Linked DNA regions of Homo sapiens. The protein of the gene in region 1 interacts with the protein of each later gene in a biochemical or structural test. Each region holds a gene or a part of one and is shown on either strand. Other genes may lie near its edges.

Region 1 (8,664 bases):
GCGTTGATTCCCCTTTAAAATATGCCTGTTTTGTTTACATTCCAGTGCTTTCTGGTTTTGGTTGTTTCACCCCTACAGGAGATGTTATCTGGGGGATGGTAAGGTCTAGTAAAAGTCTACTCAGCAGTACTGAAAACTTATACTTCAATAGTTTCTTAAAATGTTAAGCATTGTAATCCCAGCACTTTGGGAGGCCGAGGCGGGTGGATCATGAGGTCAGGAGATAGAGACCATCCTGGCTAACAAGGTGAAACCCCGTCTCTACTAAAAATACAAAAAATTAGCCGGGCGCGGTGGCGGGCGCCTGTAGTCCCAGCTACTCGGGAGGCTGAGGCAGGAGAATGGCGTGAACCCGGGAAGCGGAGCTTGCAGTGAGCCGAGATTGAGCCACTGCAGTCCGCAGTCCGGCCTGGGCGACAGAGCGAGACTCCGTCTCAAAAAAAAAAAAAAAAAAAATGTCAAGCATATATCTACCATTCGACCCAGAAATTTCGCTCTTGGGTATATGACTAAAAGAAACAACAACATATCCACAAAAAATCTTATATAAAAGTTCATAACAACCTTATTACTAACAAGCAGAAACTGAAAATAACCCCAAATGTCCACTAATTAGAAAATGGATATACAAAATATGGTATATCCATACAATAAAATACTACTGAACAATAAAAAGGAATAAACTGCAGATAACTTACAAAATAAAGAATACATCTCAAAAGTAATATGTGTGCAAAAGAAGCCAGATGTAGAATAATATATATTGTCTGAATCCTTTTATAGGAATTCCAAGAATATGCAAAGTGAAGCCACAGAGAAACATAATCAAAAGTGTAGTTACCTCTATGGGTTGGGGCTGAAGGTGTAGATTGAACATTTCTGATCTGTGCTTTTAACTGAATGTAAATTATACCTCAACAAAATTTTTGAACAGAATGATACATTTATGGTCCAGAAGAAGTCAATGGTAATTTCACCACCTGTTCAATGAACTAGGCATAGAATTGGAAATGGGAGACCATACTACAAAGCTCATTTTTAAATTTTAAAGCCATTGCAATGGTCAAAACTTGTGAAACATGATAGAAATTTTGATAGATGTGCCTCTAGTCATCCATAGAGAAAAGGTCAAGAAATTAAAAACAAAACACAAAAAGCCCATTTCACACATAGAAGGTAAAAGACTTATGTGTGTCTGCTCTTCAGTGTCATACCTGCATCTTGCATCCACATCTTTTCTATGATGGGCTGCACATTGTATCAGCATTGTTTGTGTATGTATGAACCTTGCTCATTGTTTCTCTAGGGGCCACTTAATTAATGTTCATCAACTTAATAAGCAAATCCTCAGCTGAGCTATAATTTCTCATAGCTTTATAAAACTAAAGTGACCTTAGGTGGCATGTGGTTGAGTCTCCTCATTTGCTAATAAAAATATTGAGGTTCAAAATGGTAGAGAGATGTACCCAAGGTCACACAAGCAGGGAACAGCAAATATGGGCCCTCAGATCTGACTTGAAGTCTGGTGCTCTTAACACTATGCAGTACAACCTCCTCAAAGGCTCACCTACTCCTTGACTCTCTGGGGAGAAGGTTTCATTACTTCCTATATACCAGTAGACCTTTCTCTAATCAGTAGAAATACATTTATTCTGATGGTTTTCTGACTGAGAAACTATCAGAAGTCCTGTCCCTGAGAAAAGGGTATGGTTGTTTATGTACGTAATCCTCCGGGCCAAATAAATACAAATCAAGAATTTAGCCTGAAGACAAGACAAGTAATTGTGGAAATCAATATTGGCAGGCTCTTTCTATCTGTGGTTTACTTTTTGGAGTCCAGCACTGTATTAGTCAAGGCTTCTTCAGTTGAAAATGACAGGAATCCAACTACAGCAAGCTTAGAAAAGAAACAAAAATCTATTGGCTTGAAAAATGGCATTTCTACCTTGAGACGTAGCAGGATCCATGGAGTCTTTCAAGTGTTCTTTCTCCATCTCTCAGCATTGCTTTTCTGCATGGAAGGAAATACAGTCACTGACAACTCTATACCTATACCATCCGATTCACTATTGTTCATATGACACATCTCATGGAAAAAAGCCTGATTGGAAATATTTGGGACATATGACCACCCTGTATCAATCACTATACATTAGGAGAACAGGTTCTACTATAGAGTTAGCCAGGGTCACATGTCCACCTCTGAGAAAGAGAAGAGAGGCACACATTTTACTAGCATATGGGGAATCATATGAAAAGGATCATTACTCTAAGGAAGGGATGCTTTGCTGAGGGAAAAAAAAAAGTTCACTTCAACACAAAGATCCCTCCTTAAACCAGAAGCCTAAACATATGGAGTCCCCTCCTAAAGTTGTTTGACATCCCAGGGCACTGACTCCTGCAAACTGTATTTCTTAGGCTGCTTTGTCAACTGACTTTCTTCTAGGTTCACCCAATGACAGGGTTTTGAAATACAGGTTAAAGGAGGGCCACAATATTTCTTTTCACTCTCAGCTTTTGGAGGACCCTCCAGCATTATCTGTCTCCCAGTAAGCATCTCCACTGTGGTCTCAGTTCCTTTAATGTAGCTTGTGCTCCTCATTCCTGGTAAAGCCTCCTCTCTAGCACTCCCCAGCCTGAGAGTGGTAGTACTTTCCTGCTAGTAACTATCATCGTGTTGCCTCATCATCCCCTAGTTGGCTTTTTAGTCATTTGAATCCTTTGTAATTTGTTCCCCATATTAAATTCTCTCTATTGAATTACAACATATAGATGCTATTTTTCTGAAAGAACTCTAAGATGTGTGTCGAGAGGAGGCAATCTCCCATATAAGGACCAGGTTCCCCAAAGAGAAAAGCCATTAGAGTTTGGCTGCCTCAGCTAATCTTAAAGTGGAGGAAAAAACAAACAAACAAACAAACAAACAAAAACAAAAAGTGCTGAGGAACACTGTACTTTAAACTATCAGAGAAATAATGTCTTTTTTATTGCTGTTTTTTAGAGACAGGGTCTCACTCTGTCACCCAGGCTGGAGTGCAGTGGTGTAATCATAACTCACTGCACCCTCAAACTTCTGGCTTCAAGCGATACTCCCTCCTGAGCTGCTGGGATTACAGGTGTGAGCCACCGCTCCTGGCCCTGGAAAATTACTCTCATTGAGCACCTGCGCCTGCATGCCTGGTCATGAATGTCAGCTGCTAACACTCTGGTAGCATGCCTACTCCTTCCTCCCATCCACATACTGTCTATGATTTCCTAGTCTCCTAAGACCTCCTTCTCAGTAAGGCCATCTTCCGAGGAGGAGCATCAACTCCTCCAACCTCCCAGCTCCTGGGTGTGCCTTGATACTTCCAAACTCACTGCAAGCGTCACTGGCACATGGTATGAAGCAGAGCGGGGGAGGCAGGACACAGAGCACTGGGTGTGACTGGGGAGGGCAGGCTTTCACAGCTTCCTCTGTGATGGTTTCTAATCCTTGCAGGCTCCCACCATTGGGTCTCTTTCCATCTGAAAATGGAGGAAATTAGACCAGCTGCCTAAAACATCAACTCTAATGTTCTAGGTTCTAAGATTCTGTGGTTAATTTAAGTGACAGAACCACATTATGGCTGCTGTTTCATCAGCACTGTGAAGACTGTACAAGCCACACCTCAGTATGTTGGCTGACCTTAAAAACACCTTGTCAGTACTTGATATAGACACTCGAAGTAATTCTAAGTTGCATCTTACTTTTCTTACTTACAATAAAATGCTGCTCTCTGATTATGAAGATTCATACTCCTTAGTACGAATGGTAAAGAATCATTTGTTTTCTCAGGTGGTCATTTCACTTTCAAAAGCATTTAAGAGGCAATTTTTTTAAGGGTGATATTTCAAGGTCAACACTTTCCGTGCTTTCTAATTCATTGTATTTGTATCATTCTTCAAAGATCCTTCATATTCATTATCTTTTTAAGCATAAGAGAATTGGGCTGTCATTTTTAGTTCTCATATGACACATGAATACACTGAGAGTTAGATTAAGTGAACTGTCTCTAGAGCATACGTCTGGCTATCTAGAATGTAATAACTATAAAGGGAGGGGATCTTTCTTATTAGGGTTGTGGGAAAGGTCTGTCACTGATGTTTCTAATGCTTAGAAGAGTGCCTGACACATAGTAGGTGTCAATAAACATTCGTTGACTCAATAAATGAATGAATCTAATTCGTGACAGAGCTGGGTCTAGAATTCTCTACTCCCTCAGCCATTGCTCCTTTAGTGCTGACAAGAGTTGTTCTATGTTCTCAAGCGCCCCACATTCCTTTGTCTTTTCTGGATGCACCTGTGGTTGGGTTTGTGAGGCGAGGCCAGTGAGCTTTCCTGGTGAGGTGCCACTGGCAACCCCGCCTCATAGCGACACAGGGGAGGGAAGCAGGGGGTCTGCGGAGGTTGCTCCCGAGAGACTAAAGCTGTTGCCCCCGATTTTCCAAGGACGCCAGTGAGGAAGGCCCGCCTGTCCCGCCGCCCGGGCACTGGCCTCACTTTGTCGCGGGAGGGGACCAGGGCTCTGGAGAAGGCCCGGGCCAGCGGCTGGGCGGGGCTCTCCGAGGCTCCCACCTCGCGGTCCCCGCCTGGCGGCCGGCGGCTGCGGCAGAAGGCGAAGCGGTCGTGCTCCCCCTCCCGGACACTGCGGCGGTGGCAGCGCCAGCCCCGCCGCGGCCGCCCACGGGCTCGCGGAGTCTGGCGGGACCTGCGCGGGGCGGGACCTGCGCGGGGCGGGGAGGAGGGGCCGAGGCGGAGCTGCTGCGCTGGGAGCCGGCTGGGGGCGCCGCTCTCAGTCTGGGGCGGGCGCTCGGGCTGCGCGGGCTCTGGGCAGCAGCAGCAGCAGCAGCAGCATCCTCTCTTCCTTTACTTCCCTTCCGCTTCTTTCTCTTCCTTCTCCTTCTTTTTCCCCCCCCTCCCCTTCTTCCCCTAACCCTTCTACCCCTCTCCTTTTTCTCCGGAGGGCGCTAAGTCCGTGAGCGGTGGCAGTCGCGACCGCGGGTGCATCCAGTTTCTGCGCCCAGGTAAGAGACCGTCCCCACCTCTGGCTCTATGTAGGGCGCCTCTCCTTTTGCCTCGGTCTCTGAGTAGAAAGAGATAGGAATGGGGAGGGGTTGTGTCTCGTCCTCTGGGACTCGCAGCAGGCAGTCTGGTAGTTGGTCGAGTGGCCAGCCGTGCACCTGGCGGAAGATTCGGGCCTGTCCTCTCCAGGTGTCACTGCGGAGCAGGGGGCCGGACGCTACTGGTACCTGAGCCCTGGCTTCGTAGAAGAGCGAGTGAGCTTGTTAGGTACCACTTTGAAACAACTGAAAACTTACGCCAGGTTAGAATACGTGTATCGAAAGCCAGTATTACCTGCGCTGTGGAAAGAAGGGGAGTGGATTCTACAAAGATAGTGGAAAATAGGAAATCGAGGTAGGGGATTTTTTTGTTCATCCAGCTGCAGAGAACTGCACACTGGGAAGTGAGTGAGTGAGGGAAGCCTTGTCCATTTCAAATCATGTTTCTCTGTAATTCCTTCAGAAACAGCTGGGAGAGGAGGACTGATATTTATAATTGTAGGAAAATGAAAAATAAATGCCTGGTGGTGTTGGAGGGCGGGGCACGAAGAAATGAGTCTGGTTAGGCTTCCACACAGTCGTTTTTCTTTTTAAACGTTGGGGGTGGACCTCTGAATCTACAGTGCATCTATTCTTTTCTTCCTTTTCTTTTTAAAAGGCTTTTTTGGTGGGGAGAGGAGGACTGCAGTGCTGGCTGCCTGCCTTCCCCCACCTCGTCTTTTGTTTAAGGATGGAAATTTCAAGAAAGAGTGTGTGGGGGGCTAGGAGTGGGGAGCTGTATATTTGGGTGTGTATAGGGGGAGGGGTATGGATGGAGTCAGAAAAAAAATCCTTGAAAACTGGAAATTAATGTTATTCTGCCTGGCATCCGGACTTCAGGATTTTTGTCAGAAAATAAAAAGCTTTCATTAGCAACAAGCCCGTTTGTGACAATTGCTGTGTGCCATCTGTCGTAAGCTCTTAGCACAATGCTTCCAGGACATAGACGCTTTAAAATTGAGTCCGGTGTAAAGGGTTTTTGTTTAAATGCCTAAACACACAAGTATGCACACAAATGTATAATACACTATATACATGTTACAAAAGGAAATAGGTACTTAAGAGACTGATTTTTTAAAATTGTATTTGAGGGTTTGGAAATTATGTTGTGAATAAAATCTGTAGTGCAAAACAAAAAAATATTGTTGGGTGGTATATAATTTTGGGTGTGAGGCAAAGGGATTGATGACTGTTGGTAAGGAACTAATTTAAATGTTAAAGGTATAATTTATTTTAAAATGATCAGTCTAGAAAAGGAAATGATTGCAAACTGAAATTGAGGTTTGCAGCCACAGTGAGGCGATGGAGAACAAAGCCTTCTATGTGAGCCACATTATGCAAAATGTCCCATGCATGAGCTGCAGGTACCAGCCCAGTTCAAAAGCATAGTTCTTTCACTATGTCATTTCACTGTGGACAATTATGATTTTTTTTGGCAGTCAAATAGATTGAATAAATAGAAGCCCTTTAGAATGCTTTTAATTTTATGCCCAGGGAAAAGATTACAGCCTTCCATCAGAATATAACACAAAGCAGCCCTTTAACCGGGCAATAGGTGTATTTTGGTAGAAATCCTTGTGAATTTGCAAATCATGGATGTTCCAAAAGCCCCAGCCCCATGCACACAAAGAACCCTTCCTTCAAGAAAAAAGGCATTTTTCTCATTCAGTAAGGATTATTATATTTGTGTGTGTATGTTTATGTTGATTTCCTGGTAATTTCATCTGATTATCATAGGTGTACATCTGCATTCATGATTTGTATATTATCAGAGCCATTGTGGCTTTAGGATCAGTGGTACATGCTGTTTATCTGTGGTTTATTTAATTTTAATTTTTCATATTTTACAGTTTGCTACAATATTATTTAATGTCCAAAGTTTTCTTTTTTAAAACCATAAGTAGAAAATTGCTTAACACACATCTGAAGATCTAAGTAATTTAAAAATAGAGCTACCTTTTATAAAATAATATTTTAGTTATATTAATTTTTATTTTATTTATCTCCTCTCTTATTTTTTTCCCTTTTCTAATCAAATAACCTGTTTCTTTATGGCTGCTTTAGTCTTCTATACTGCCATAGGAGGGCCAGTGTTTTCAAGAATTTTGAATTTAGGATTGTTCATTCTCTGCAGCACCTCTCAGGATGACTTGTTTACAGCACCTTCTCAGGGAGGAGACAGGGAAAGAATGTGCTGAAAGAGCATGACCCAGTGAAACTGGCACAGCCATTACCTCATCCTAGTAGGTACTTCAGATTCATTGAGAGAGCAGGCATCCTCTCAGTGGAAACCAAACACCAGGAGCACACCCATCTCAGGGCAAAAGCCTTTCTCTTCCCATAGCAGCCTTTACTAATGTCATTCCACTGAGGTTAAAGGGATATTTTCTCTTTTATGTATTCCTTTTCAGGGATCTTGAACTTGGTTAGAAATATGTAGCCAGAAATGAAACTTGGCACAGAATCCTCTAAGCCTGAAGGAATAATTTCATTCCTTTACCCCTTTTGGTTTAAACCAGTTCGCAAATTTTCTAAACATCAGAAGGGAAAAGGAAGAAAAATGTTGGTGTATTTTTGTGTATTTTCTTATCACACACACATATTTTGTATTGAATTTTACTAGCAGTTAGACAACAGACTGGACATGCTATTAACAAATGTAGTTGCACTGTTGGCATTTTAAAAAATCATTATTACATTTGCTTATAGGACAATAGGTGCATCCTTCAGTGATTCATTGATGTCCTTTTGAGACTGACCATATGAAACTGACATGGGGATTTTAGTATTCAAGTTGGTAACTCTGATTATTGAATCCTTTCAATACTTAATTTCCTCTTAACAGATTAAGATAAAGAATCTGAAATAATAGTTACAGTAGAAGATAGCACCACCCCCAGATCAATACTATCCTCCTTAATGCTAAAAGTAGTCACTTTAGGTAAGTCATTAGTAAATGCATGAACCTGAAGATAACAGTTTTGAAACAATCTCAAATTTTTTTGTCTCTGTTATAGATTAGTTAAAGATGCTAATAAACTCTTTGAGTCATATCTGATTCTCTCAGATATATCAAGTGTTTTTGCTACTTTAATTATCTCTTTACTATTGCCATTACCTTTATCTACTCAATCTAGACCTTTTCATGTAAGGACTGTATTTTGATCATTTCACCATATTTTCCCTCCCTTCACATCATTCTTTTTAATTCGACATTTGGATGTTAGACTTACTGTTCTCTAGCTATTTTGGTTTCAGTAATGTTACTCTCTTGATACAAATTTGGCCTTTATTTTTCATTAAGGAGAGCACTTATTACCATTTATGTATTTATTTATTCATTATGAGAAACAACTTTTGATATTCTCAGTTTTCAATTGCAGAAAATGATTCTAGGCACCAAAAGCAGTTAAAAGTCTGCAAATTAATATGTAGTACACAAAAGGCCAAAGTCAAGGGAGACAGTCTGTATGAAGGTTTGGGTGGGTGGGTAGGTGGGTGGGCGTAGAGGAAGATGTGGAATGAAAGCAAATTCTCAGCTAT
Region 2 (8,445 bases), on another chromosome or scaffold:
GGCTCACTGCAACCTCTGCCTTCCGGGTTCAAGCAATTCTCCTGTCTCAGCCTCCTGGGTAGCTGGGACTCCAGGCGCCCACCACCATGCCTGGCTAATTTTTGTATTTTTAGTAGAGATGGGGTTTCACCATATTGGTCAGGCTGGTCTCAAACTCCTGACTTCAGGAGATCCACCCGCCTTGGCCTCCCAAAGTGCTGGGATTACAAGCATGAACCACCACGGCTGGCCAGGAAGGAATGGTTTATTCTGGGAGTCACCAGACTCTTCTCAGATTGAACTCACTGTCTCTCTTGCTGGCTGGTCATGAATGGGTGTCCCAAACCTGGCAAAGCTCTTTGGCTGATTCTGTTTTGCCCAGTTTAAAATGAGGTGGCTTAATAAAGGGGCTAAGAAGTGAGTAAGAGGGTAAATAGAAACCTTCTGATGCGTCTGACTTCTAGTTAATGCTAATGGATGTCAGAGATCCTCCCTAATCTAGGCGGAGGTTGAAGTTAGCCAAGATTGCACCACTGCACTCCAGCCTTGGCGACAGTGAGACTCCGTCTCAAAAAAAAAAAAAAAATTAAAAAAAAAAAAAAAAGGAATACTCCCTAATCTATTCCATGTCCTAATAATAAGTAGATCAGACTTTAATGTGACTCACCGAAGTTTCAGATGATCGAATACAAGATTACATTTAGCTTAGTTTAAATAATGGAGATGGAGTGAAATGAAGTAATAGGCTATAGGCCATAGGGAATGCAGAAAAACAGAGGAGGGTACTGATCATTTCAGACTCGGGAAAGACTCCTACTGCTGTCCTGTAAGCTACAGATGACAAATAAGAGGGTCCGTCCTAGGCAAACCTGCAAGATACCACAGACAGACTCATCCACAGCTAGGCTTAATTTCAAAACATTTCTCCAAGGATGTCCTGAAACTGCAGGGGCTCTTGGGTTTCCTGGGCTCCTTCTCGGAAAGGTGCCTTTCACTATTGTTTACGGTTCAAAGTGGTATCCTTTCTTTTTCCTCTTGAAGCAGCCAGTATTTCTGGGCTTTTGTAACAGGTAACAAGGTTACGGAAATGAAGTTAATCTCAAAGGACCCTTGAGAGTTTACTGAGGCCCCAGATGCTAGCCTACTAGACACATGGAACATTTTAAAAAATTTCCAGGACCATCAGCCAAGAATCATGCAGCATTTAATAAAAATAACTTAATAATAGTAACATTATTTTTTGATAATAAACCAGAGATTTTATCTCCAAAACTATACCATTTAAGGACATTACCTTGCTCTCAATATAAATTACTAAGACTGAGAGAGAAACTTTCAAGATTTGGACTCTTAAGAAATTTACTGCTCCTTAACAACAATAAAGTGAGAAAAGAGAAGCTGTCTCTTTCCTCTGGGGCTGGAGATGATTATGAAAGACATGCATGGTCTTTCCTGCTGATTGTTACAGAGTGCCAGCCCCCCACCCCACACCAGAACTCGAGGTCTGCCTGCTCAACAACAACGAACATGCCATGCAGACAGATACGTGAGCAAAAGGAACAATAATTAAAGAACAGTAACAAAAACCTCCTAAATGCTAGTTAACTTTTAGTGTTATGAAGACTCTGAGCTCTACAATTTCTACTTTAAAGGTTTTAAAGTATAAAGTTAGATATATATAAAACCAGAAAACCATGAGCTGAAGGCAGACTGAAAAGCATCCAGGTAGCAGTGGCTTCACACAACAAAAAAGACATCTTTCCTTTTGCTCTATGTGTTCACTCCAAAACAACCAGCACCTAGCACTTACCTCCTTGTGAGTTTTGAAGTTAATTTACTAAAGAGATTAGTGGAGCCTCGGCTTCGAGTCTGGGACAATGGTGTGGCTTCATGGGACAGGCTGGGAGAGGCAGGAGGGCCATTATATGTTGCGGTTCGCCGTTCCCGGGGCTGGCCGTGGAAAGTGCTACGACTGGCAGTGCCTCTTGGGAAGCGGATTCGATCTGGGGTGGCTGCACTACTGATACTGTGTGTTGAAGCAACTGGAGTTCTCTGATCAGGAATAGTGCTATGAGATCAGAAAGTAAGAAGCTCTCAGAACATGATATACAAAAATTTACAGTCACAATATACCTTTTATACACAGTGGAGAAAATCGGGTATAAAAAATCCAGATCCAAGGGGTATTTTATAGGACTTAGGAGCAAAAGGTAAGTTAAGTGGGAAAGGGTACCAAAAGAACAATACATAATGAGACAAAGCCTCATGGAGTTTAAGGGACCAGTATTATATATATTTTCAAGGACAAGATTAATGCAGGGAAATTCTAGGACAGAGAACAGCTAACTCAAACTTTTCCCCTTTGCTTCCCTCTCAAATTGCTTACATAGAGAACTGTGCCAATACGAAAGAAATAAAGGATATGCTGGCGTAACTGAAGAACAGGCAACTAAAAAGTTTTGGAAGTAAACAAATGATATATGTATAAAATTCCACATGCTGAAAGCAACTTGGGAGGAGCAGGAACTTCTTATACATTTTGTAGTACGCGAAGGCACGAAGACACACAATACACAACCGAGGACATCATGACAAAAGATGTGCTTAACTAAAATCACATGGAGGAAGGACGCCTTGTGGACAACTGTAACAAAATCTCAGACTATAAAATCCACAGCACAAAATTAAGAAGCAGTGGGTACACATTAGTTTCACAAAGAATGTGCATTTTTCTTACATAGCCTTGAAGTTATCTCCTTCACTGTCTATTGGAGGTAACATCATCTTGGGGTGCCCAGAGGCTGACATGGACATCGACTTCTGATGTCTCAGCCGACAGGTAGATGTACAAACTGAGGCAGGGCTAGCTGCGTAAGCGAACATTTCTGTCAGGCTGGGAGGGGTTTGGGTTCAGGCAGAGGCAGAAACACAGTATGAAGGAGCAGTGACCACAGAGCAACCTGTGTGTAATGCACACACCTTCCTCCCAAGCCATCTCATTTCTGGTAAAGAATAAAAATCTCCTAAGCTTGTTTTGGAGATTCTGGAGCAACTGCTAACCTATAGTTGCTTTTTTTTTTTTCCAAACAGTAATCATAAAAATCTATTACCTTAAAATAAAATAGCAGATTACATGTTTGAATATCTGTTTCTATGAGAGGGACAATGTCCTCTGAGGGTATGCACAAAATAAAACCTATTCTAAGAGATGCCTCAATTCAAATCTAAGTGGTAAAATGAATATATAATATGAGCATGCTATGCTCTCAACCTGTTCCCAAAACACACTGACATATTTTATTTTTTCTTTATTTATTTTTTTTGTAGAGACAGGGTCTCGCTATATTATCCAGGCTGGTCTTAAATTTGTGGCTTCAAGTGATCCTCCCGCCTTGGCCTTCCAAAGTGTTGGGATTATAAGTGTGAGCCACCACACCCGGCCCGCACTGATGTATTTTAAATGAATTAATAAGATTACAGGTATAGGAACTAGCTGTTATATAACAGTATCCTATGTTGTTTGGTGTTTTTTTGAGACAGGGTTTTGCTGTCACCTAGCTGCAGTGCAGTGGTACGATCATGGCTCAATGCAGCCTCAACTTCCTGGGCTCAGGTGGTTCTCCCACCTCAGCCTCCTAAGTGGCTGGGAATACAGGCGCACTCCACCATGCCTGGCTAATTTTGTATTTTTAGTAGAGAGAGTTTTGTCATGTTGCCCAGGCTGGTCTTGAACTCCTGGGCTCAAACGATACGCCTGCCTTGGCCTCCCAAAGTGTTGGGATTACAGGCATGAGCCACCATGCCCAGCCTTCCAATGTTGTTTTAACAATATAGTCTAGAACCTTCCTAATCAAAGGACATTTACTCCAAGATAAAAAACAGTCAGCAGAGCCCCCTTCTCCAAGATGGGCAAATTCATCAGAGCAAATTAACTGTTAACAGACATGGTAAGATAGAGTGGCTGGAAGTCTGCAGTTTCATCTAACACACACAGTTACCGGACAAAACTACCCCCAGGAGTCTCACTGGGACACATTATTTGGAATTCCAGCTCAGTAATCATGTCCTTGGAATTCAAGGGCAGTTTCTTTCCTTTAAGGATAAGTAGGAATACAGCTCTTCCAGTGTCTTTCTGCAGAAATCCTTTGGAAGGATTAAAACCTGGAAACTGGCAAGTTCTTCCTTTCCCTCACTCCCCATACACAGACTAACGACATCTTATTGGTGTCAACTTCCTAGTAGCTCTTCAGGTGGCCCATCTGCTCCACTTCTACCAGGGCCTCAGTATAGAGCCTCGCTCCTTGTCTTCACTGGGTCCCCTGCCTTTGCCCCAACACCTCCAATCTATTCACCTTACAGCTGAGAACTTCTTAACATATAAACCAGATCTTGTCACTCATCTGCTCATACTTCTACAGAACACCAAGTCTTTGGTAAAAAGTTCAGTCTCCTCGACTTGGAGTGCAAGTACACATCCCCAGGCCCCTGAAGTCTGGCCCCTGCCATCTCTCTAGGCTTTGCCTTCTATCATTCCCTCCTGGAACTCAACTTTCTAGCCTTCCTGATGATGTGTGGTCCATTGGTCAGGCACCAGGTCAGAAAATGTTTGCAGGAGTTATTCTCTTGGTATGGAGGGCTGGGATCTTTCTATTCACTCTTCAAAAATGAACCAGATGTCGTCATCTCTATGAAGTGTTATCTGATCCATTTTCCCTCTGAGAGTTAAATCACTTCTGTTTTTAGCTCATGCATGCCACATTGTATCCTAGTGACCCTTCTCTGCTGGAGGTCCCTGAAAACACAGCCCAAAATCTTGTCAATGTGCCCCCCACCAGTGTAAGCAGAAAGCCTGGCAGGGCAGGTATTCAACAAACGTTCTCCTAACAGAGCAGATTAATCAATTAGCAACTGGAATTCTGATAGCCCCAACATAAAGCAGATACGTCTTTAAAATCAAGAACTGCTTGTCCCTGAATTAAAACATTTTTATTTAAATTTTTATTTTTGGAGACAGGGTCTTGCTGTATTCACCCAGGCTAGAGTGCAGTGGCACTATCACAGCTTGCTGCAGCCTCAACCTCCTGGGGTCAAGCGATCCTCCTATCTCAGCCACAGGAGTGTGCCACTATGCCTGGCTAATTTTTAAATTTTTTGTAGAGATGGTGTCTCACTATGATGGCTAGGCTGGTCTTGAACTCCTGGGTTCAACTGATCCTTCTGCCTCAGCCTCCCAAAGTGCTGGGATTATAGGCCTTGTGAGCCACTGTGCCTGGTTCTGTCCCTGCATTTTTGTTTGAGAATTCTGCTCTCTGACTTGGGAGAATTTATACAGTCTGAGAAGGACTGGAAACAAATGTCTTATAAAGGCAAAAATTTATCCAGTTTCGTATTTCTGCCACTCAGTATCCATTCTTTTCCTGCAGCAACAATAATGAGATTTTGCTGTGGTGGAAGTAACTCTAGGCCCCACACAGATCAAGGAGACCACCTGAGGGCTTCTGCTTGAGCACAGCTGTGTGTGGGAAGAAGTTATGTCTGATGGTGCCGAGCCCAATCATGGAACTACGGCCAAGGAGGCAGAAGCAGATGGACCGTAACTCTAGCCCTGGACTTTTTTTAGTTATATGAACTAACAGCCCTTTTATATTTAAGCCTGTTTAGACTGGGTTTTCTGTCACCTGCAACAGAGACAGTTCTAACTGACTAAGGTTTTTAAAGAAATGCTCGGTTGTTTCTTGTACATGTGTACAGACACACGTACACATGAATGCACACAAATGTTATTTATTTTTTTTTTTTTGAGACGGAGTCTCACTCTGTCGCCCAGGCTGGAGTGCAGTGTGATCTCTGCTCACTGCAAGCTCTGCCTCCTGGGTTCACGCCATTCTCCTGCCTCAGTCTCCCAAGTAGCTGGGACTACAGGCACCCACCACCACGCCCGGCTAATTTTTTGTATTTTTCGTAGAGACGGGATTTCACCATGTTAGCCAGGGTGGTCTTGAACTCCTGACCTCGTGATCCACCCGGCTCAGCCTCCCAAAGTGCTGGGATTACAGGTGTGAGCCACCGCGCCTGGCTACACAAATGTATTTTTCTAACAAGATACAGCTAAATACAACTATCTCTTGTGCCCTTACCTTTCAGGGTGAGTCCAGGGTCAACACACTCTACCTCCAGTTGTTGACTTTTTTCTTGCCCAAATTAGGAGCTAGTATCAGTAGATGTGCCAAGAAAAGCAGGGGAAGAAGATGCAGGAGTTGTTTGACCCTTTCCCTGGTGAATACAAATGGTCCCAAAGTCTTTGGAGAAGGAAAAGGCTTTTAGTCAGCTTGCAGGCAGGAGGGTGCTGCATCGATTCCCAATGAAGCACACTGCTGACAGGCCAAGCTAGATCTTTAAGGCATACAAGCATGGTAAGAGGGTGTGGACAGATGCTTTGCAGAAAAAAAATGGATCCTCTAGAGACCTAAGAAGGAAATGTAAATTTATTTTCTCATTATAAATTAAAAAAAAAAATTTTGTAGAGATAGGGTTTCGTCATGGCCCAGGCTGGTCTGGAACTCCTGAGCTTAGGCAATCCGCCCGTCTTGGCCTCCCAAAGTGCTGGGATTATAAATTATTAACTTGAGGCTGGGCGTGGTGGCCCACGCCTGTAATCCCAGCACTTTGGGAGGCTGAGGCGGGTGGATTGCTTGAGGCCAGGAGTTCCAGACCAGCCTGGCCAACATGGCAAAAACCCATCACTACTAAAAATACAAAAATTAGTTGGGTGTGGTGGCGGGCCCCTGTAATCCTAGCTACTCAGGAGGCTGAGGTATAAGAATCGTTTAAACCCGGGGGTGGTAGCTGCAGTGAGCTGAGATCATGCCACTAAACTCCAGTCTGGGTGACAGAGAGAGACTGTTTCAAATTAAAATAAATAAATAAATAAATAAATAAACTTTTTGACATACTAATTTTAAAGGCAATTAAATAAACTTTTTAGAAATTTAATCCATGTCACATCATGAGTTTCACAAAGCAAGCAACAAAATATTTCCGATTTTTCTGATTTCTACAGTAGGCCTAACACCCAGAAGGAAACAGTAAACTCAGTAAGATGTTTGCAAATTTCAATTTTGTACAATCAAGCTCACAAAAATCCTATTTACAACAGGCAGCCCCAACATCACAATGGTCTACATATATATTCTAAAAGGTCATCAAGCTAATTGTTATGAAATTCGAATAATATTTCCCCCCAGAAAAGTGTTAAAAATGATAGTTTTATTTCCTATTCTAGCCCACAATCTACATAAGCAAAACAGTAGCAGCATTACATTTTTTTAATAATTAAAAAATTTTTTTAAAGTTTTTGTGGGTTCATAGTAGCTGTATTACATTAATTTTTTTATTTTTATTTTTTTGAGACTGGGTCTGGCTCTACCGTCCAGGCTGGAATACAATGGTGTGATCTCGGCTCACTACAACCTCCATCTCCCAGGCTCAAACCATCCTCCTGCCTCAGCCTCCCAAATAGCTGGGACTACCGGCATGTACCACCACACCTAGCTAATTTTTGTATTTTTAGTAGAGATGGGGTTTCACCATGTTGGCCAGGCTGGTCTTGAACTCCCGACCCCAGGTGATGCACTTGCCTCGGCCTCCCAAAGTGCTGGGATTATAGGTGTGAGGCACTGTGCCTGGCACCCAGCTAATTTTTTTGTATTTTTGGTAGAGATGGAATTTTACCATGTTGCCCAGGCTGGTCTTGAACTCCTGGGTTCAAGCAATCCTCCTGTCATGGCCTCCCAAAGTGCTGGGATTACATGGTGGCGTGAGCCATCATGCCTGGTCTACATTTAAACCTTAATTGATAGAAATAGCAATGTTTTTCTTAAAATTCAAGTTGCATGAAGAGAGTTCCTATTAATCTTCCCAACTGTTTTGTATTCATGACTATCTTTTAAAATTAAAAAATATATATATTTTTATAGAGACGGGGGTCTCAGGCTACTTTGTCCAGGCTGACCTTGAACTCTTGGCCTCAAGTGATCTTCCTGTCTAGGCCTCCCGAAGTGCTGGGATGACAGGGCTTGTGAGCCACTGTGCCCAGTCTTGACTATCTTTTCTAAAACATTAATCCACTTAAGGTTACTAAAGGATAGGCACTTTGAATTTGTTGCTATGACCTCTAGCCCCTATCAGAACATTCTGATAAGAAATGTATTGGCTGCTGATTAAAAGCATACTCAAGTGACTGGGCAAAAGCAGAATTAAAAATATAGTCCAAGGACAGGCATGGTGGCTCATGCCTGTAAACCTAGTGTTTTGGAAGGCTGAGACTGGAGGATCCCTTGAGGCCAGGAATTTGAGACCAGCCTGGGTAACATGGGAAGACTTCATCTCTACAAAAAATAAAAAATTAGCCAGGTGTGGTGGTCCATGCCTGTAGTCCCAGCTACTCAAGAAGCCAACACAGGAGGA
Region 3 (4,603 bases), on another chromosome or scaffold:
TATGGCAGGAACTATGCTGGATACTGGGGCTAAATTAATGAGCAACAGAGATCTGATTCTAATACTTGTAAAGATCCCACTGTAATGGGGGAGGCAGACATTCATCAACTGATCACACAAATAGATGCTAATGGCAAGAATCAAAAAGCCTACAAAGTCTTATGTACATATTTCAAAGAATTTGACCCACTAGAAGAGGTCAAGGGAGGCTTCCTTTAGAGAATGACATTTAAGCCTAAATCTGAAGGGTCAGTAGGAACCGGCTGGGCAAGGCTGAGGGAAGGAGAGAAAAGATGAGTGCTCCAGAAAAAGGAATCACCAAAAATCCTGTGACAGATGGGAGAACAGAATACCAGGGTGACTGGAGTGCTGGAAGTGGAGGGAAAGGGCTGTACAATGGGATGAGGTTAGAGAACTAGGCAGGAGTCAGCACTAGGCAGGCCTTGAAGATCACATTTGAGATTTTGGTTTTCATATTAAAAGTGGGAAACTATTAGAGGGTTCTATTCAGGGAGATGCCAAGATCAAAATTTTCTTTTTAAAAGATTAGCCTGCTGTAGGGTGCTAATTGAAGGAGACCAAGAGTAGGCCCTGGGAGAAGGGTTAGAGTGGTGGCAGTATAAATTGAAAGATGTGGAAGGATTTAAGACATTGAAAGATGTGGAAGGATCTAAGACATGGAGGTGTTCTCACTATAACTCTGTGATAGGTTAGTGTAGAGGGGCAGAGGAGAGGTAATGGGAGGTAGGATGTCATTTAAGGAGTCCATTTAATGGAATCAGATGATTATAGAGAGGGGATCATTCATTAGGAGAGGGAATACTGAAAGAGAACTGCAGGTTAAAAGGGGCACTGACCACAGTACCAAATTTGGGGAAATGTTAAAAAAGACTTTAAGCTCAATTTAGGTTTTTTACTATTTTATTATGGCACACAGGATAGAGGATGGTACAGTTTTCTTACTTCAACCAAGTAATTCTCAAAGCATCCAGCTATTTCCATTTGGCTAAAGTTACTTTTTGCACATAGCTTGCATCTGTTTGAGACTTACCATGTACATCAACCCAGGTCTAGTAAGCAGAAATGTGAAAAGTTTTGTTTCTGAGGAGACGCCTCATCTTTACAGAAGCCAATACACTGAGAGCCTTCATAGTTCCAATCCATTACCATCATGGCAAGGAAGCACTTTACCTATTTGCATAGCAACATATATTTAACTAGAAATAGGTGGTACAAAGGGATTAAGTAACTTTAAATGGAGACCACTTTGGTTTCAGGTTAAATTAATAACTTATAGAGATCGTCTAAAAAACAAATATTGAATGAAATTAGCTGACAAAGCAATTGTTTCAGAACAAAGGCAGAATAGCAGATAGTAATATCATCTATATTTATTCCACATCAAATGCAAGAGCGTTCTTAACTTTACGACAGAAAGGATACATGGGGCGTGTATTTGATGCAATGTCCAACCAGTCAAGCTATCATTGAAATCCAAATATCTCCCAGTAGAGACATGCAGAGCAATGTCAATGTAACATACAAGCATATTACCTCCCCCCTTAAGTGACTCATAATTTCATTACTTGTGTCTGTAGCTTTTAAAGGTTTAAAAATGTGTAGCATTAAGTGGTATTTACTTGAGGCAACAGAATTACGCTTAACAACACACTAAATCATGAGCTCAGGATTGCAGGCAACATGTTTGCAGTGGAGTGGCAAATAACCTTTGGTAGTTTTAATCCCTTCTCCTGAAATTATATATAGATAAAAAATTATTCCTTCTTATTGTACCATGTTCTCAGGTTTTAACCTCCTCCCATGATATTTAGACTATATTTTAAAATGCAGTTATAGGGATGAATGTATGGGATTCATATTCTATCCATATTGCATTGTGACATATCAGTTTGAAATGACCTATTTATCATGGTTCCATAGTGTAATGGTTAGCACTCTAGACTCTGAAATGACCTGTTTACCATAAAGAGTGTATCTGTCAAGTAATTTCAGAATTGCTCCCTAGAAAGCCATCCCAAAACCTAACACAACACGTGTTATGAGGCAAAGTCTATTGTTATTTATAGACTTTCTCATTTACTCATGTTTATTATCAGTAAAATTTTTGTGGGGAGAGATTTCACAAGTAATCATGACATAACTGTATCCCTCAGAATTTCCAATTGAAGGAAGAAAAAAAAGTATTGGTAATTGTTAAAATTTCAACTTTTTAAAAAATTGGAGGTCAATAGTCCACTGGTATATACTTTATATTGGTGCCATCTTTAAGGTATTTTAATTAAGTAACAACCACAGCAAAAAATACATCATTCGGTATAACTTTATTTACTATTTATTGCACATAACTCAGGGTCTTTAATTGCTAACCACCGAAGGTTCAAAGGACTATTTTTCCATGAAGTTTAACATTAACATTAGTGAATTCATTTACTCATGTGGTGTTTTTTATTGTAAACATCTGAATGATTCACATTGCCGTAGATCCTGAACTCATAAGCGTGGTCCATGCACAGGCTGGCAGCAAGCCAGAAAGCCACTCTGCAAGCAAACAGATACTCTGCATAAAGAGGAAATTCATAGCACAACATTGAATGTCCAACCTAAGTCATCTCAGAATTATACATATATTGACTTTTTAATTCACATAGAATCTGGAACTCAACTGGTTGGTTGGTTGGTGATGGGGTTGACCTGATTTCGGGAGAATTATTCCTGAAATAATTAAGGAAATGGGGGTTCAATCTTTCTTCTTAGCTGCTTGTTCCTCCCCAGCACCTTCAACTTTCTTCTCCTCCTCTTCAGCTTCTTTGGTTTCCTCTCCTTCTTCACCTTCACCTCCTTCTTCTTCTTCTTTTGCTTCTTCAGACTCTTCCTTGGCAGCTTTAACATAAAAAGAAAATGTACAAAATGCAAATCCAGGGTAAGTCCAGTCAAAACATGTCTGCAAAGGTTTTATTTGCAAACACAACTGTCAGAATGCTACCAAAACCTCCCAGCTCCACTCTCTCCAAAAGCACATGTAACAGACAAAGCTTGCCATGAATAATTTGCCACTGAACACATATTTAAATCGAATGAGATCACTTCTAGGTATGGGAAGCTCTGCTCCTCTCCAAGACTTAACCTCAATATTTCTTTCATTATGTGTCTGGTATCTATTTTTGTTCTTTAGGACACCAACCTGCTGTGTTAAATGATTATATTAAAAAATGAAAATTTTGACCAATCACCTCATTCAGAGTAGATGCCTTAGGAAAGTTTTGCTAAACAAACAGAAAATTTATTTATGATTCTAATGTCATATATGAATAAATGAGCAAGGCTTCATTTGTCTTATCCACCTCCTAACAAATCTCCACACCCAGTTTACACTTGAAGTTGCAGGGGTTTTTTCTTATCATACCTTCTTCCTCTTCAGCTGCCTCCTCTTCCTCGGCCTCTTCCTTGTCCTTCTCCTCCTCCTCGGCTTCTCCTTCAGAGGGGGGCTCATCCTTGGCTTCCTCAGCCTTGGCAGCCTCAATGGTTTCCTCCACTTCGATCTGCTCCTCTTGGACATGGCTGGTGTAGTAGGACGGGAAGGAGCGGGTGGACATCAGATAGGAGCTGGTCTGTAAACCGCCGTAGGCAGATCGGCCAAAGACCTGGGAGCTCTGGGAGTAGCCACTGGTTATGCTTCCCACGCTGGTGAAACTGAGTCGGGTCTCCTCGCCTTCCAAGAGTTTCCTGGGGATGCAGATGCAAGGTGAGGTTAAAAAACACCTGTGTTTCACAACTTGCTCTGAGTACCCTAAACACAAAGGCAAGCAGGAGCAGGGCTGGGATTTATCAATACTTAATGCCTGGGGATCTTTTGATGGAGACCAGAAAAAATATAAATAAATCATCCTATTAGATTTAAAGTGTAATGACAAGATAAAAACAGGACTCCTAATTACAGGGTTAAATTCTTATATATCTAAATACCCTCTTCTTGGAAGAAGCCAAAAACTAACACTTCATTATTTCAAAAGGACTATTATTGAAGGTTTCTGATCCAACATAACTTTAAATGGGATCTGATTTTCTTCCTAAGGTTTAATGGCTGCTGTCTTTGCCCCTCTATTTTCACCTGTAAGCTGCAATCTCAATATCCAAAGCCATCTTCACGTTGAGGAGGTCTTGGTATTCTTTTAGGTATCGTGCCATTTCACTCTTTGTGGTCCTCAATTCATTTTCTAATTTGTTGATCGTGTCCTGTTTGAAGACAAAAATAAAACAAAAAAAAAATCCGAGCATAAATCCCTTCTATTATTTTACTGTAGTGTAGTTGCAAAGGCCTAGTTTCGATTAAAATCAAGGTGCACACCTTTGATAAAATCTCTCCTAGAATAACTTCCTGTATCTTTTGAAAAACCTTCATGCCTAAAATACCCAAGTTCATGAAGCCTGAGATGAAAAAAAAGATGGACGAAAATTCTGTTCTTCTGTTTCTTTACTTAATACTGTTTAATGATCATCATAAAATGCATGCAAACAGACTAAGTTGATAGAAAAACTGTGTCTCTCATTCACTGATTAACTCTTCTTTAGCTGGGTTACATGC
Region 4 (8,445 bases), on another chromosome or scaffold:
CAGGTAGAAGGGCCAGTGTGTGAAGGCCAGGAGATGGCAAGAGCTGGCGTATTTCAGGAACAGTGAGTCACTGAGGATGTCCAAGTATAAGGGTAGGAAAGGGAGTGAGCAGTGAGAGAAAAGACCGAGGCATCAGCAGGGGCCAGATTGTGCTGGGCCTAGCGGGGCGGGCCCGGGCCCGGGCCCAGGCCCAGGTGCGGTGCATTCAGCAGCACAGCCAGAGACAGACCCCAATGACCCTGCCTCCCCGTCAGCAGCCAGTGCTCTGCACAGAGCCATCCTGAGGGCAGTGGGTGCTCTTGAGAGGTTTCAGGCAGGGTGTGCTGTGAGCAGGTCATGCCCAGCCCTTGACCTTCTGCTCAGTCAGGCTTGTCCTTGTCACCCACATTCCTGGGGCAGTCCCTAAGCTGAGTGCCGGAGATTAAGTCCTAGTCCTAAATTTGCTCTGGCTAGCTGTGTGACCCTGGGCAAGTCTTGGTCCCTCTCTGGGCCCCTTTGCCGTAGGTCCCTGGTGGGGCCAGACTTGCTACTTTCTAGGAGCCCTTTGGGAATCTCTGAATGACAGTGGCTGAGAGAAGAATTCAGCTGCTCTGGGCAGTGGTGCTGGTGACAGTGGCTGAGGCTCAGGTCACACAGGCTGGGCAGTGGTCAGAGGGAGAGAAGCCAAGGAGGGTTCCCTTGAGGGAGGAGGAGCTGGGGCTTTGGGAGGAGCCCAGGTGACCCCAGCCAGGCTCAAGGCTTCCAGGGCTGGCCTGCCCAGAAGCATGACATGGTCTCTCTCCCTGCAGAACTGTGCCTGGCCCAGTGGGCAGCAGGAGCTCCTGACTTGGGACCATGGTGATTCTTCAGCAGGTCAGTGTTCCCACCTCTTTGGGTGGCCTGTCCTCCCCAGGCCATATCCCCTCATCCATATGCTTACCCGTGGGACACCCTCCCCAGGGTGTTCTCTTGGAAAATTCCTGCCTAGGCTTCCAAACCCAGCCCTCCAGGCTGAGGCCTAGTCTGAAACCTGTTCCCTCTGCTGTGCCAGCTGGGGTTTCCTTCTCTCACTGGCTCACCCCACTGGGCAGAAATGAGTTTATTTACACACATCTCTGGATCCCAGGCAGTGGAACAGCATGTGCAAAGGCCCAGGTGTGGGAAGGTCCCTGGGGAAGAGGAGAGGAGGTTGGCAAGGCTCCCAAAGCCAGGCCAGGAAGGGCCCTGAGCCCAACTTATTCTTAGGGCCTTGGGGAGCAGTGACTGGAGGGCGGGGGGTGACAAGGCTTGAGCTGGAGCCCCCTGGGATTTTATGGGAAGAAGCAGAGGTGCTGGCCCGAGCTGAGTCCTCCAGCCCCCCTTCCTACTGAGGGCCACAGTGGCCTCTGACCCTCAGCCCTTCCCCGTGATCAGTCTGAGGCTCTAATGAGCTCCTGGCCTCCAGAGCAGGAGCCAGGAATGTGGGCCCTGAGCCAGGTGGGCCTGGCAGCAGGCCGTAGGGCTTGTGGGGCTGTGCATTATGGGGGCTTGGCCAGCAGCTTCTCGGTCTCCAGGGTCACCAGAGGCCAATGGCTCAGCCTTGCCTGGCCACCCTGAGGCTGCACGGACCAGCATGTTTGCATATGAGTGCGTGCGCGTGTGTGTGTCTGTGTGTGTGAGTGAGAGGCAGGCTTCAGGGCAGCATCAGGACAGACATTCTTCTATCCCAGGGGCTGGAGGAGACCCCCTTTAGAGCCCCTTGGCCTGAGAGCCTGTTCAAACGCCCATTAGAGATGGGCAGGATCTAGGAGAGGAAAAGTCCATTCGCTGAGTGTTTGCTGTGTGCCAGGGCCTGGGCCCCCATAGCCCTCCAGGGGCGTCCTCCCTCAGGGGGCCTCTGAGGCAGGCCTCTGGCTGATGGGACCTCCTCACCACCCCCTCCTCTCCTGCCCCTCTGAACGCTGACCCACCTCCAGCTGTGGGTGGCCTCTGTTGGGAGCAAGTGTCTTGTAGGTGAATGCCTGTTCTGCCTGCCCTCAAGCAGGAAGTACACTCAGCTCCTTCCTTGGTCCTGAAGAAAGCCCCAGCCCTGGGGAACCGGCCAGCTCTGCAGTTGCACAGGCCGGGCCTAATGGGCTCCAGCCCAGGCTTTGCTATTGATGAGTGGGAGGGCCTTGGGCACGTTACTCAGCCTTCCTGAGCCTCAGTTTCCTCATATGTAAAATGAAGATTAAAAGCCTCTTTTCCCACAGCTGCCGATGAGAGGCTAAAATGCCATGTGGAGCTCCATGAAAATGCTTCTTCCTTCCTCTGCTTCCCTGGTCTGCCCTCTCCTCCTCTCTTCCTGCCACATCCTTCCCGGTCCTGAAAGGTCCACGGAGTGCTTGGCTTCCCCTCTTGCCTGGCTGACTTCTGCTCAGGCTTCAGTGTAGCCTCTACTTCCTTCGGGAGGCTTCCCTGCTCTGCAAACCCCAGGGCCTGGTCCACAGTCCTCCTCCTTTCTCTGCCTACCTGGGGCTTCCTGATGAGCCCTGGACATGAGGGACAGCCTTCATCCCATTTCCCGTGGATCTTTCAGGATAGGGAAGGAACTGGCAGGAAGAGAGGAGGAGAGAGGCAGTCCAGGGAAGCAGATGAAGGAAGAAGCATTTTCATGGAGTCCCAAATGGCATTTTAGCTTCACAATGGCAGCTGTGGGAAAACAGGGGTTTTGTTTGTTTGTTTGTTTGTTTGTGTGTGTGTTTGTTTTGAGACAGAGTCTTGCTTTGTCACCAGGCTGAAGTGCTATGGCATGATTTTGGCTCACTGCAACCTTCGACTCCCTGGTTCAAGCAATTCTCCTGCCTCAGCCTCCTGAGTAGCTGGGATTACAGGCACCCGTCACCACGTCCAACTAATTTTTGTATTTTTAATAAAGACGGGGTTTCACCATGTTGGCCAGGATGGTCTTGATCTCCTGACCTCGTGATCCGCCCACCTCGGCCTCCCAAAGTACTGGGATTACAGGCGTGAGCCACCGCACCAGGTGGATAGAGGTTTTTAATCTGCATTTTGCATATGATGAAACAGGCTCAGGAAGGCTGAGTAATGTGCCCAAGGCCCTCTTACTCAACAGCAAAGCACAAGATGGAGCCCACTGGGCCCGGCCTGTGGAACTGCAGAGCGGGTCGGCTCCCGGGGCTCGGGTTCTTTTTAGGACCAAGGAAGCAGCTGAAGCATACTTCCTGCTTGAAGGCAGGAGGAGCAGGCATTCACCTACTATTCCCTGCCCTGGAGGAGTTCCCAGACCTATGTGGGGAGACAGCTTAGAAACCTAGGAAAGGCACTGTGACAGTGAGTCTCCAGGGGGCACGGGGATGAGAGGGCACCTGGGAATGGGAGAGCCTTCTGCCCTCCCTGGGAGAGGGTGGACAGGGAAGGCCATGAGACAGCTGCAGCAGCCTCTCATGAACATACAGGGACTGAGGTCTCTGGAAGAAGGACTAGCCCAGCTGACTAGTGGCGCACCTGTGTGGCACACCTGACTCACATCTTTAAGGACCACAAGGAGGGCTTTTGTGCTTCAGTATGTCATGATTCCCAGCTTCATGGTGGTGCCAGGGTAGGGACTCTGTGTACTTGGCCCAGATTTGTGGGCAGAGGGAGGTTTGAAGATAAATTTGTGGGCTGTTGATAACAGTTGGATTGATGCTTTTAGTAAAATATAATGTCCTTCTTTGTTTCTTGTAATGATTTTGACTTAACATCTATGTCTGATAGTGTAGTCATCTCAACTGTCTTTTGGTTACTATTTGCATGGAATACTATTTGCATGAAATCCTTCTACTTTTAACCTATTTGTGTCTTTGGATCTAAAGTGGATCTCTTGTAAGCAGCATATAGTTAGATCATGTGGTTGGTTTTTGTTTTGTTTTGTTTTTATCCATTCTGCCAGTCTTTACCTTTTGGTTGGAGAGTTTAATCTATTTACACATGAAGTAATTACTGTTAAGGAAGGACCTCTGCCATTTTGCTATGTTTTCTGTATGTCTTATATCTTTTCCTCCTCAATTCCTCATTACTGCTCTTTTGTGTTTAATTGACATTTTTTTCTAAAGTACTGTTTTGATTCTCATTTACTCTTCTGTGTATTTTAAAAGTTTTTTCCTCAATGATTATTCTTAGGTTTACAAATAACATCTTTTTTTTGAGATGGAGTTTCACTCTTGTAGCCCATGCTGGAGTGCAATGACACAATCTCGGCCCACTGCAACCTCTGCCTCCTGGGTTCAAGCAATTCTCCTGCCTCAGCCTCCCAAGTAGCTGGGATTACAAGCGTGCACCACCATACCTGGCTAATTTTTTTTATTTTTAGTAGAGACAGGGTTTCACCATGCTGGTCAGGCTGGTCTCAAACTCCTGACCTAAAGTGATCTGCCTGCCTCAGCCTCCCAAACTGCTGGGATTACAGGTGTTAGCCACTGCATCTGGCCTACAAATAACATCTTAAATCTGCATCAATATAGTTTAAGGCCAAATTAGCTTCAATAATAAATAAAAATTATGTTCCTTTATAGTTCTATCTCTCCCCCTTTATGTTATTTATTGTCCAAATTGCATCTTTATACATTGTGTGCCAGTTAACATAGATTTATCATTATGTTATACATTTGTCTTTTAAATCACACAGAAAAGAAAGTAGTTACAGACCAAAAATACAACATTTTTTTTTTTAAAGAGATGGAGTCTTACTGTGTTGCCCAAGCTGGTGTGCAGATGCTATTCACAAGTGCAATTGTGGTATACTACAGCTTTGAACTCCTGGGCTCAAGCAGCCCTCCTGCCTCAGCCTCCTAAGTGGCTGGGAGTACAGGCGCCTATCACTGTGCCTGGTTAAATATGACTTTTCTATTTATCTATGTAAGTGCCCTTACCAGTGTTCTTTAATTTTTTTGTATGGCTTTGCATCACTGTCTACTGTACTCTATTTTTTTTTCCAATTTTGTATTTTTTAAAATACATATAACAACATATACCACTTAACTTTTTTTTTTTTTTTTTTTGAGACAGAGTCTCACTCTGTCACCCAGGCTGGAGTGCAGTGGTGTGATTTCAGCTCACTCTGCAACTTCTGCCTCCCAGGTTTAAGTGATTCTCCTGCCTCAGCCTCCTGAGTACCTGGGATTACAGGTCCCTGCCACCATGCCCAGCTAATTTCTGTATTTTTAGTAGAGATGGGGTTTCACCATGTTGGCCAGGCTGGTCTTGAACCCCTGACCTCAGGTGATCTGCCCGCCTCAGCCTCCCAAAGTGCTGGAGTTACAGGAGTGAGCCCCATGGCTGGCCCCATTTAACCACTTTAAGTACATAGTTCAGTGGCATTAAATACATTCACAATGTTGTGTGACCATCACCACTATCAATTTCTGCAATTCTTTTCATCTTGTAAAATAAAGATTCTATCCATTAAACAATAACTCCCCATTCCCCTCTCCCCACCACCCTTGGCAACCACCATTCTGCTTTCTGGTTTTGATTTGACTATTCTAGGTGCCTCACATAAGTGGAATCATACACTATTTGTCTTTTTGTGATGGCTTACTTCACTTAGCATAATATCCTCAAGGTTCATCCATGTTGTATTAATAGCATGTGTCAGAATTTCCTTCCGTCTTAAGGCTGAGTAACGTTTTATTGTATGTTTATACCACATATTGTTTATTCATTCATCTATTGAGGAACACTTGGGTTGCTTCCATGTTTTAGCTATTATAATTAATACTGCTTTGAACATAGGTGTGCAAAGACCTCTTTGAGATTCTGCTTTTAATTCTTTTGAGTATATATCCAGAAGTAGAATTGCTGGGTCATATGGTAATTCTCATTTTAATTTTTTTAGGAACTGCCATAGTGTTTTTCACAACATTTGTATTATTTCACATTCCCACCAGCAGTGCATAAGGGTTCCATTTTCTCCACATCTTTACCAATACTTATTTTCTGTTTTGTTTTGTTTTGTTTTGTTTTGTAATAGCCATCCTAATGGGTGTGCAGTGGTATCTCATTGTGGTTTTGATTTGCATTATCCTAATGATGAATGATGTTGAGCATCTTTTCATGTGCCTTTGGTCGCTTTGTATATCTTTTTTGGAGAAATGTCTATTTCAGTCCTATGCCTATGTTTGTTTGTTTGTTTTGGAGACACAGTCTCACTCTGTCACCCAGGCTGGTGTACAGTAGTGCCATCAAACTCCTGCCTATGCCCACTTTTGAAATGGGTTGTTTGTTTTGTTGTTGTTCAATGTCTTTTAATCTTTAGCATTTCTTATAGGGCAGGTCAACTAGTGACAAACTCTCTCAGCTTTTGTTTACGTGGGAATGTCTTCATTTCTCCTTCCTTTGTGAGGGATAGTTATGCCAGATATAGAATTCTTTCTTGACAGTTTTTTTATTCTTTCATCATTTTAAATATGCCATCCTACTGCCCTCTGGCCGCCGTGGTTTCTGATGAGAAATCAGCCGAGACTCATACTAACGATTCGTTGTATAGAATGAGTCACCTCTCTGTTGCTGCTTTCAAGAGTCTCTGTCTTTGCCACTTGTGGAGAAGAGGCCTATTCCTCCAGCTCAAGGGTGGTCTCAGTAGTCGTTCTGGAACCAGGCAAGGTCAGGTTCTTAGCACCTTGCAGGGTCTCCCCCAGGGGACCTCTCTTTAGCCACCAGCCGCCAGACTTACTTTACAATCTCTTCCCTCTCTCCTCTGATTCTCTGAGTTTGCTGTTCCCTCTTCCTGGGATGCCCTTTCCCCTAATGTCTGCCTAAAAAAAAAATCTTAAAACCCAGCTGTCACCCCTAACACGACTCCCTTAGTTAACCATGGCTGGCACTCATATACATTTGGTCTAACAGGCACCAATCTAGGTGCATTACGCATCTTAACCTGTTAAATCCTCACGAGCACGTGGAAGCAGTGTCATTTTGTCACCTGACGGATGAGGAAAGAAAGGAACATAGAGGTTGAGGAACTTGCCCAAGGTAACACAGCTTGTGAGTGGCTGAGCTGGGATTGAAACTAAGCCATCTGACTCCAGGGTCCAAACTCTTAGTGGCCATGCTATCCTATGTCTCCGGGACTGATCTGCCTCTTATCTGGTGGTACCATCCTTATCTGTGCCTGGGTCTGTCCACCACACCAGGCTGGGAGCTCTGAGGACATGTCTTGTTAACAGTGTCCTCTGTACTTTAGTCTGAACCTGTACTCAGTGAAGGTCGGTTATATGAACTCGTGGTAGAATGCCTGGAAGCTCACCACCAGCACTTCCTTGTGTCTGAGGTCTGGGTCCTGTCCCAATGTACTGCTATAGATGGGCGGGGAGAGATAGGTGTGCCTGTTTTCGGCTTGACTGGGGGAAGGACCTCTCCTGAGAGCGGTGTCCCTGAGAGGTCACAGGAAGTGAGTGGGAATCACTGATCAGTCAGCTTCGTGCTGGACAGCAGAGCCCTGGGTTCCCAAGGCTGGGACAGGGAGTGGGGTAGAACTGGGCCCATCCTGGGTGGCTCTGAGCCCTGTGTGAGGCATCACCGTCTTTTTCGTTGCCATTCCCCCCACCCAGTCCCCCGCCCCCACTCTCTGCCGTTGTTCATTCGTTGGGGAGCAGTTGGCTTCCAGGATACTAGGCAATGCAGAGAGCCACAAATGCAGACTGGAGGCCTTGAAAAGAGAAGAGGAAGAAAAAGGAGGAAAGAGGGGAGGAGGACAAAGATAGGCAGGGCAAGGCGAGAAGGAGGGAATGGGAGAGGAGTCACAGGGCCTGGGCCTTCCGGACCCTCGGGATGGGACGGTGGCCTCTGGCTCACAGCCCAGCGTGGACCGACGCCTGGTGTCCAGCCCTGTGTGGCTGCTAGGACACAGGAGGCCAGCTTGGCCCATTGCAGGGAGAGCTCTGAGCCATCGAGGTGGTTCAGCTGTCCTGGGGAGTTCAGGGGACCCCACACCAGGCCTCCAAGGCCTCTTCTGCAGGATGGACGTGGGCTGCTATTTGACCTCGGGGGCTGCGGGAGGAGGACATAGCCTCTTCAGGGGCTTTCCCCCAAACTTACCCCAGAAGGAAACTGTATCTGCCCTCACTCCCCAGAGGCAGCCAGGGAGCCAGAAATATCTTCAATGCATCTCTCCTTTAGTCTTAAAAACCCCGGGAGTTTACCGCGTTCTAGTCCATAACATCCTCGTGTTTCCTTCCATGGAAAACATAGAAAAAAACATGACGATTTTTTCCAAAACTGCCGTCAGGTGCGGTGCCAGGTGCCACGTTTATCCCGGGCCTACCGCCGCGGTGCCAGTGAAGCCGCCTGGGATTCCGGGCAAAGTGGGGCTGTGGGGGGTTCGGCCGAGACGGAGGGGGCCGGGGTGGCGCGGGCGCCCCCTCGCCGTCCCGCCCGCGGGCGTCACCTAAGCCGCCGTTGCCATGGGCCCGCAGCAGATGGCCCGGTTTAGGGTTCCGGGGCGGG

What was found.
Region 2: of the proteins of MAP2 (region 1) and MARK3, one has a biochemical effect on the other in vitro, tested with the Homo sapiens proteins (one study listed by BioGRID).
Region 3: the proteins of MAP2 (region 1) and NEFL form a complex in vitro, tested with the Homo sapiens proteins (one study listed by BioGRID).
Region 4: the proteins of MAP2 (region 1) and MYO7A form a complex in vitro, tested with the Homo sapiens proteins (one study listed by BioGRID).

The regions. Positions count from the first base shown.
Region 1 is NC_000002.12:209,419,231-209,427,894, forward strand, and holds the start of MAP2 (microtubule-associated protein 2), read left to right. Parts: upstream 1-4,816; 5' UTR 4,817-5,046; intron 5,047-8,664. UniProt on the Homo sapiens protein: The exact function of MAP2 is unknown but MAPs may stabilize the microtubules against depolymerization. They also seem to have a stiffening effect on microtubules.
Region 2 is NC_000014.9:103,485,379-103,493,823, reverse strand, and holds part of MARK3 (MAP/microtubule affinity-regulating kinase 3), read right to left. Parts: intron 2,048-8,445; coding exon 1,790-2,047; intron 1-1,789. UniProt on the Homo sapiens protein: Serine/threonine-protein kinase. Involved in the specific phosphorylation of microtubule-associated proteins for MAP2 and MAP4. Phosphorylates the microtubule-associated protein MAPT/TAU. Phosphorylates CDC25C on 'Ser-216'.
Region 3 is NC_000008.11:24,950,052-24,954,654, forward strand, and holds the end of NEFL (neurofilament light polypeptide), read right to left. Parts: intron 4,255-4,603; coding exon 4,130-4,254; intron 3,817-4,129; exon of another isoform or gene 3,745-3,816; coding exon 3,425-3,744; intron 2,902-3,424; coding exon 2,759-2,901; 3' UTR 904-2,758; downstream 1-903. UniProt on the Homo sapiens protein: Neurofilaments usually contain three intermediate filament proteins: NEFL, NEFM, and NEFH which are involved in the maintenance of neuronal caliber.
Region 4 is NC_000011.10:77,129,801-77,138,245, forward strand, and holds part of MYO7A (unconventional myosin-VIIa), read left to right. Parts: intron 1-788; 5' UTR 789-834; coding exon 835-852; intron 853-8,412; exon of another isoform or gene 8,413-8,445. UniProt on the Homo sapiens protein: Myosins are actin-based motor molecules with ATPase activity. Unconventional myosins serve in intracellular movements. Their highly divergent tails bind to membranous compartments, which are then moved relative to actin filaments.